Linked DNA regions of Homo sapiens. The protein of the gene in region 1 interacts with the protein of each later gene in a pairwise test. Each region holds a gene or a part of one and is shown in the gene's direction. Other genes may lie near its edges.

What was found. Proteins that work in one complex are often made in the same cells at the same time.
Region 2: the proteins of TMEM108 (region 1) and ARHGEF6 interact in a two-hybrid assay, tested with the Homo sapiens proteins (one large-scale study listed by BioGRID and IntAct).

Annotation. Positions count from the first base shown.
Region 1 is NC_000003.12:133,384,302-133,387,956, forward strand, and holds part of TMEM108 (transmembrane protein 108 isoform 1 precursor), read left to right. Parts: intron 1-3,655. UniProt on the Homo sapiens protein: Transmembrane protein required for proper cognitive functions. Involved in the development of dentate gyrus (DG) neuron circuitry, is necessary for AMPA receptors surface expression and proper excitatory postsynaptic currents of DG granule neurons.
Region 2 is NC_000023.11:136,679,821-136,683,475, reverse strand, and holds part of ARHGEF6 (rho guanine nucleotide exchange factor 6), read left to right. Parts: intron 1-631; coding exon 632-718; intron 719-1,507; coding exon 1,508-1,586; intron 1,587-2,599; coding exon 2,600-2,745; intron 2,746-3,655. UniProt on the Homo sapiens protein: Acts as a RAC1 guanine nucleotide exchange factor (GEF).

The DNA of each region.
Region 1 (3,655 bases):
ACCTTGCTTCTCTGAAGCCACCAGAGTCAGAATTCAGATGGGCGGGGTGCTGGGCAGCGGTGATCCTCTGCTCCTGGTAGAAGTGGGAGTTGAGTAAGGCAGATCCCAGGCCTGTGCAAGGAGGGAGGGTGTCCGTTCACCTGCCCTCCCAGATTGCAAGCCACAACCAGTGCCTGGAGGCATATATGTGTCCCGGGGCTGAGAAATGCTTTTCTCTCCTGAGCCCTGCCAGACACTCTAAGCCACGCACGTTTTCAGAAGTGCTGAGAACTGAAATTGATTGGATTCAGGCCATAATGGGCTAGGGCAGAGGAGCCAGGTGGCTCCCAAGCTGGTCTCTGCTGCCACCATCAGGACGCACAGAGCCCACCACTCTTGCCAGAAGCCTCCACGCCTGGCGCTGAATTGGTCGGCGCTCACCATTGTCAGCGGTCTGAGTTTTCATGAGCGTGTCAGTTTTGTGGCTCTGTCAGGGTCCTTTGCCTGTTTGTCACATGTGATGTCCATTTTTGAAAATGCCTTCACCCATCCTCCCTGCAAGAAGATGGGGCTGTTTGGAGGGTGAGATTAGAAAAATAGACTAGCTGCAGATGTTTGTCATCACCAACTCAAGTTCACCCTGGCCAAAGTGGAGTAGCCCCTCTCTCTCTGACACTAGACACTTGAGGGCACCCTCTGCACCTGGTCCCCAGAGCAGTCTGGCCTCCTTCTAGACAGTGGAGCATTAGTGCAGCATTCAAAGAGGTCACATACCATTGTGCTGATGGTTGCTCAGTGAATATTAGACCTGAATGTATATGTGTGCCTTTTCACTCACAGGCCCTGAATGAGTTTATAATTATTATATAAGAAAACCCGGGTGAGAATGACTCTTGCCAATGAAAAGAGTAGAAGAGATTGGGATCAGAAGGCATTATGGCTGGGAAACATGTCTCCTTGGAGCTTACGGATCAAACAGGGATGGGAGAGCCTCAAGGCAATGCAGGGATATCCAGGGAATGTCCCCCAGCTGTTCCAGTGTTAGACCCATACCCTGACAGCTCTTCCCTGTGCATCCCAGCCAGCACCTCCAGGCAGCACTCAGTCCTCACTTCATGGCTTCTCCCCAAGAGGGCCGTGGGCTTCTACAGGCACATTCCCGCCTGCCAGGCTGGTGGGTCAGACACTAAGCCCCCCAGCCTGACCTCCCTCCATACCCTGAGGCCTCCCTGTGACCTCCTCCCTCAGCCTCCAAAGGAGGGAAATGGCTGTGCACAGCCCAGGTGCACCCCTCCCACTGGCACCCATGGGCGAATCCTTTCCCTCACTGGTCTCAGGTTTCTCATCGACAAAACAAAGGGGCCAAACTGAAATGTGTCATCACTCCCTGTCCTCACAGTTAAGCCTGCATAGATCATTAGAGAGGAAGCCTAGTATGCTTCTAAGACTTGGCTTGTGGAATCAAACATACCTGCACACAACCCCAGCTCTTAACATTTGTTGGCTGTAGGACTTACACAAGTAACTTCATCATTGATCCAGTGTCTGTCTGCAAAATGGGACTCCTGTCCACTGTGTTAGTTCCTTCGAGATGCAGGCACCAAGATGGGATTAGGCATATAAGAGAATTATTGGGGGAAACACCTGTAAAATGTTCAGGAAGGAACTGAAGTAGGCAGAGGAAGCCCCAGACTGCAGTGCAGGCCTGACCCCCATGAAAGGAGAGGGAGAAGGAAAGAGAATTCAGTAGGAAGAGTCTTAGACTACAGTGTTGTTCTAAGAAAGTTTCTGCCAGCCAGTGGGAGTCCTTAAGCCATTAGAGGGGTTCCATGTCCAGCAGGAACAGGCCTGCACTAGTACCCCTGTCATGGTCAATCATGGCTGACCAGGGCATTTTCATGGCTGCAACCTCGAAGACTTGTAAAATCAGAGATGATGCATGTTAGGTCTTATCTTAGCATCTGCCATGGAGAAGGTACTCAATAAATGGCAGTGATCAAACAGTGATGATTATTCATCTTATTGTTTTTAAGATTTGCAATGCCTGCTCAAACAGGCCCGGGAAAGAGCAATTCAATAGTTGTTTGAAAGGTTGAATCCTCAGGGGACCTGCAGGGTTTCATTTCCATTTCTCATCACACAGCAGATCCTATCACCTGAAAGCATGCCCTTCCACAAATGTGAATACAGTACTCAGGGCTCCATCTGAAAATGGAGTGACCCCTCTTCTTCCTGTCACACATCTGACAAGCCATGGATGACTCCCCAGTGACATTCCTGGGAACCCAAGAGAGCTTAATTCCCAACTCTGTTTTAAAACTCAAGGAAATTGGGACTCCATGACCTCCTCCAGAGTCTTGATGGCTACTGCCTCAGGAGAAACAGAGCAGTTGAAGCTTTTCAACTAAATGGGAAAGGGAACAGTTAACATCTTGTGTTTGCATAGAGCTGCGCAGTTTACAAAACGCTTCTGCATATGTCATCTCTATACCCTCCGGTGTTCAGGACAATACAGGATAGTGGATATCAACTTGAAGATCATCAAGACCTGGACTCAAGTTGCAGTAATTAGTTGGGTGATCAAGATCAATACTATTAGCTTCTATGACCTTCAGTTACCTGTTCTGAAAATGGGAAGAGCAATAGTGCCTTCCTCAGGCAGTTATCATGTGGGCTAAATAAGCTTCAAAGTGCCTGGGTCAGTGCTGGGAATATAGTAGAGACCCTGTAAGTCTGACTTGTACTTTTCTTTCTTGGATGAAAGGTGAGACCACTGAAATAGTGAATGTTCTAACCCCTAGGTGGAGCTTTGTCCTTGAGCCACCCAATAGTCATATAACACAGTTTTTCTTTCTAGATCTCTCTTGTAGAGGATGTTGGGAGAACAAGAAGAGAACTGTCATTAATTAAGCATCCATTGTGTGTCAGGCATTGTGTTTGGCATTTTGCATCCATGATCTCTTTAATTCTCATTACAAGCCTATGAAGTTCATCTTAAGTGACTTTCCAGGTGGAATACATGGCAGAGTCACAATTTGAACCTAGGTCTTTCTGTAGCCAGGCTGGCTTTCAGTAAGTAAATGAAATGGTGTTTGAGAAGCACTGGAAACTCCCTGAGAGAAATATAATCAGGCCAGGAGCATGAACATGTGAGGGGAAGACAGCGTGGAGCAGAACTTTCTGTTCTGACTCCCAGGCCTTCCCGCAGGGCAGGATCTCTGCATCTGGCATTCTAACAACATGGGCTGTTAGAGCACTGGACTCGGGGGCGGAGGACTTGGATTCTGCAACCTCTACCAGCCCAGGTTAGCAGCATGGCCTTGAGCAAGTTCACCTCTCTAGGTTTCCATGCCCCACCTTCTAGAATAAGAATGTAGGCTGGGGGAAGGGGCTGATTTGTTTCAGCACCTACTGTGCACCAGGGACAATTTGAAGTGCTGGCAGATGTATGACTGCATTTAATCTTCCCAAGGAAGCTGACGCTGAGAGAGGTTAAGTAACTTACTCAAGTCATGCAAGTAATAGATTGTCACCTAGATTCTAATTCTAAATTCGATGTCCCTTTTGCCCTATTGACTAGGCCTAAGATGGCATCTGTCACTTTGATTCTGTTTGCTTATAACTGCTCAGTAGATCAGAGGCACAAATATCTTTCTACCTTAGAGAGGCGTGCAAA
Region 2 (3,655 bases), on another chromosome or scaffold:
GAGGCAGGAGAATCGCTTGAACCCGGGAGGTGGAGGTTGTGGTGAGCCGAGATCGTGCCATTGCACTCCAACCTGGGCAAAAAGAGCGAAACTCCGTCTCAAGAAAAAAAAAAGAAAGTGTATCTACTTTTATGTTTTACATAAATCCAATAATTATCTTGTTCTTAATGACCAAAGCTAATTTTATGAATACGACTTTAACAAACATGTTAGAGCATACTAAATCTCTTATCACCTGAAAACCCCTTCATCTTGCCATTTTTTCAAAGTAAAATATATTTTCATTTTGTGAACCTGGAGACTTATTTTGTGCCCAGGTCTAGCACATCTCACTGGCTGCATAAACTGTGGTGACTTCTCAGGCTTTCATACATGGAAAGCAAGCATGGTTATTTGTATTTAATTGTTATGTATAAGAAGAAGAGAGATAAACTGTGGGTTTATGTCCATGTCAAAGTAAAATTCAACTAGTTTTGTGTTTTCAAGTTGGGTATCTTTTTTAAAAAAAAAATTACCGTTAATGTTTCAGTTGTTTATATAAGGTCTATGTTATAAGGCAGTGATTCCAGAAATTCTCAACAGATAAAGTGTCCAATTCTGTTCTTCATGTATTATTTTCATTCCCTCTCAGGAAAAAGAGGAGCGGTACCTTATGTTATTTTCAAATGTCCTGATAATGTTATCTGCAAGTCCTCGGATGAGTGGCTTTATCTATCAGGTTAGTAAATTTCATATAAAACACATAGCAGACCCCCTAACGAAAACAGGTTTCCATCCAGATGCAATATCTCCACTATGGCATTAAAAGCTCAAGCCAGGAGAACCAGAATGTTCTGACCCTTCATTGTAATTAAAGAGCTTGTAAGAGCAGATGTTCCTTAGATCAAAGACCTTTGTATTAGTATAATGAGTTTATCTTGAATATATCCACCGCTTTAGTTATGCACTAGGTTTTGCATGCATAAATGGAAACTAGATAAATTAGCAGCAGTATTGTACAGGCCCATGTCATTATTGCTGAGAAAACATAAAGCTGGGACCTGCTCCTATGTTTGTCTTATTATAGTCACAGCACATGATTCAGGCTTCTAAGAAGCATGTTATTAAACTCCTTAGGAAATTAAATGTCCCTCAGTCAGCTCCCAACATATAGAGTATTATAAGTTACTATTGCCTGTTCCATCTTGGCCTGGCAATTAATAATTTTCATAACATCTGAGCCTTCACTTTTTTTTACTGATTCTTATGAAAATGTGTTAGAAAAGTAAACTGCTTTGTAAATCCTGATCTTATAGTTTAGGGTGTGTTAGCCAAACACAATCCACATTTTCCCCTTGCTTTCTTAGTCTGATTAAAATTTAGAGCAGGGAAACATATTATCTATTGACAGACTGGAGAAATACGTCTAGCCATAGTTTTGCCTTGCTGAGAGGGTCAGAAAATCTAAGTGAAATAAACAGAGACCTGTATAACTGCAGAATTAATGAGAATGTTCTTTTTCTAATAGGGAAAAATACCAATAGCAGGAACGGTGGTGACTAGATTAGATGAAATTGAAGGGAATGACTGCACATTTGAAATCACTGGTAGGTAATTTTCTCTTTTTCATGTAACTACTTCCAATTCTTTTTGGAATGAAGGGGAATTTAATAAATAAATGCCATTATTTCCTGTTACATAGGCCACGAGCAAATTTTATGCGGGCATGGCAAAGTATATTCCATTTCCTGGGATAATTAGGGTACAGCAATAGCACAGAGAAGTCTCCTCTCATTCAAAAGCCATGGCTTTGCCATTAGTTTCAATTTTCTGTTGCATGAGAGCTACTTGTGAGAGCTAAGGAATAACGAAATGGACTGATGTAAACGCAATTTTCTTCCCCTCTGTCATTTGTTCCCTGGTGGCAGAGGAGCCAAAGATATGGACTTTTATCAGCAATTTTATCATCAGCCCATGAGTTAGTAAGATTTGGTTGTATTTCTAAAAAGTTCTGAAAAGCCATCAAATTTTCTTCACAAATTGAGCATAATGCCAGGCTTCAGTAATGCCCCCTGACATTTTAGCTTATGATCCCTTTTGCCAGGTCTGTGTCATTTATATGTAGTGGCCTGACTGTTGGTGCTGATATGGCACAGTGGCTAAGACTGGGATCATGGCCTTACCCTCTTCTTTCCCAAGAAGGAGCTTAAGGTTTGGTGTTTGCCAAAAGGTTGTAAATAGTCTTAGTTGGATCTTGTTCCAACTTTGATACCAGGGGAACCAGGACAATATTCCCACTTTAGACTTAACTAGATGGACTATGTGCTTATGTTTTTGGATTGCAAGTTTGTTTATGGTGAAGTTTTACACTACTTTTAAGCTTCTGTAAGCAGTAAAAATCAAGGACAGTTTTCTAAATCAGACATGAATATTTATTTACTTTGTAATCACAGGTTATCTGTTTCTGATATAGAAATTTCAGCAGGGTTATCCCATAGGTATGAAAACCCCTGAAAATACACACCCAAGTCCTAGTTGTATGAAGTCTATTTATGAATGGGACAAGCTCAAGTTTTTCCTTGCCTTTTGTTTTCAAACTGATCATAATTGGGGGATGTAGGTAACACAGTGGAGAGAATTGTGGTCCATTGTAACAACAACCAGGACTTCCAGGAATGGTTGGAGCAGCTGAACAGACTGATCAGAGGACCTGCCTCTTGCAGTTCATTATCCAAAACCTCATCGTCATCATGTAGTGCTCATTCTGTAAGTAGTCCATGTGTTCTGTCCAGAGATTATTGAGTCTTTCGTCAACTCCTGCCTGCTGGAGACTTACAAGAAGCAGCGAGCACACCCTTAGTCTTTTGGGCAGCCTATATTTGTAGATTTTGAAGTACAGTTAAACCTCACTCATTCTGATTTCTCATTATGAGGCCCATCCAAATTAATGAAAAGGTTTACTTAGAGTGTGCAGTTCTGTTTGACAGTATTCAGATACCCCAACTAACTGCTAGCAAAGTATTTCTAACCAGAAGTCCTGCTAAAATATTTTAATGATAAGCAAGGCTTATTTCCATGAGCAATGGTTATTCTCCTACTAACAGTGGGCTAAGTCGAAACAAATAGTTTACCTCCCTAAGTACTTAAACATCTCCATGTCATCTCACTCATGCTCTCACATTTGCTCAGTAACCTTCTTCAAAGGTAAACTTTTAGCATTATCTCCTTCTGAGTTATCACAAATTTAGACATTGGAATTTGAATTGATGAGATTTTACTGTACTTGCTGAGTGAGATGGAAGATATGCTGTGTTGTTTGTTAACATACAAACCTATGATGCCAAAATTCCAGTTTTGAGGACTGTGTGTTGTGGTTGGAAGAATATGGACTTTGGCTTCAGATCTGGGTTCAAATCTTGGCTTTGCCAATTACTAGTTAGTTGCTTCCCTTGACTGAGTCTATGTCTTAGGCTGTTCTCATGAAATAACCTATTTAAGCACCTACTAGAGTGCCAAACATATCACTGAACTCAAATGTTGACTGCTACTCCATTTTCCTTCCTTACAGAGGAAAGAAAATTAAATTAATTAAATTCCAGATGAGAAAGAGAGGACAGGATCATGGAATGTTGAGTCAATTTTGTGCTGTTTCTTAGAGACCCGATAATCTGGACTG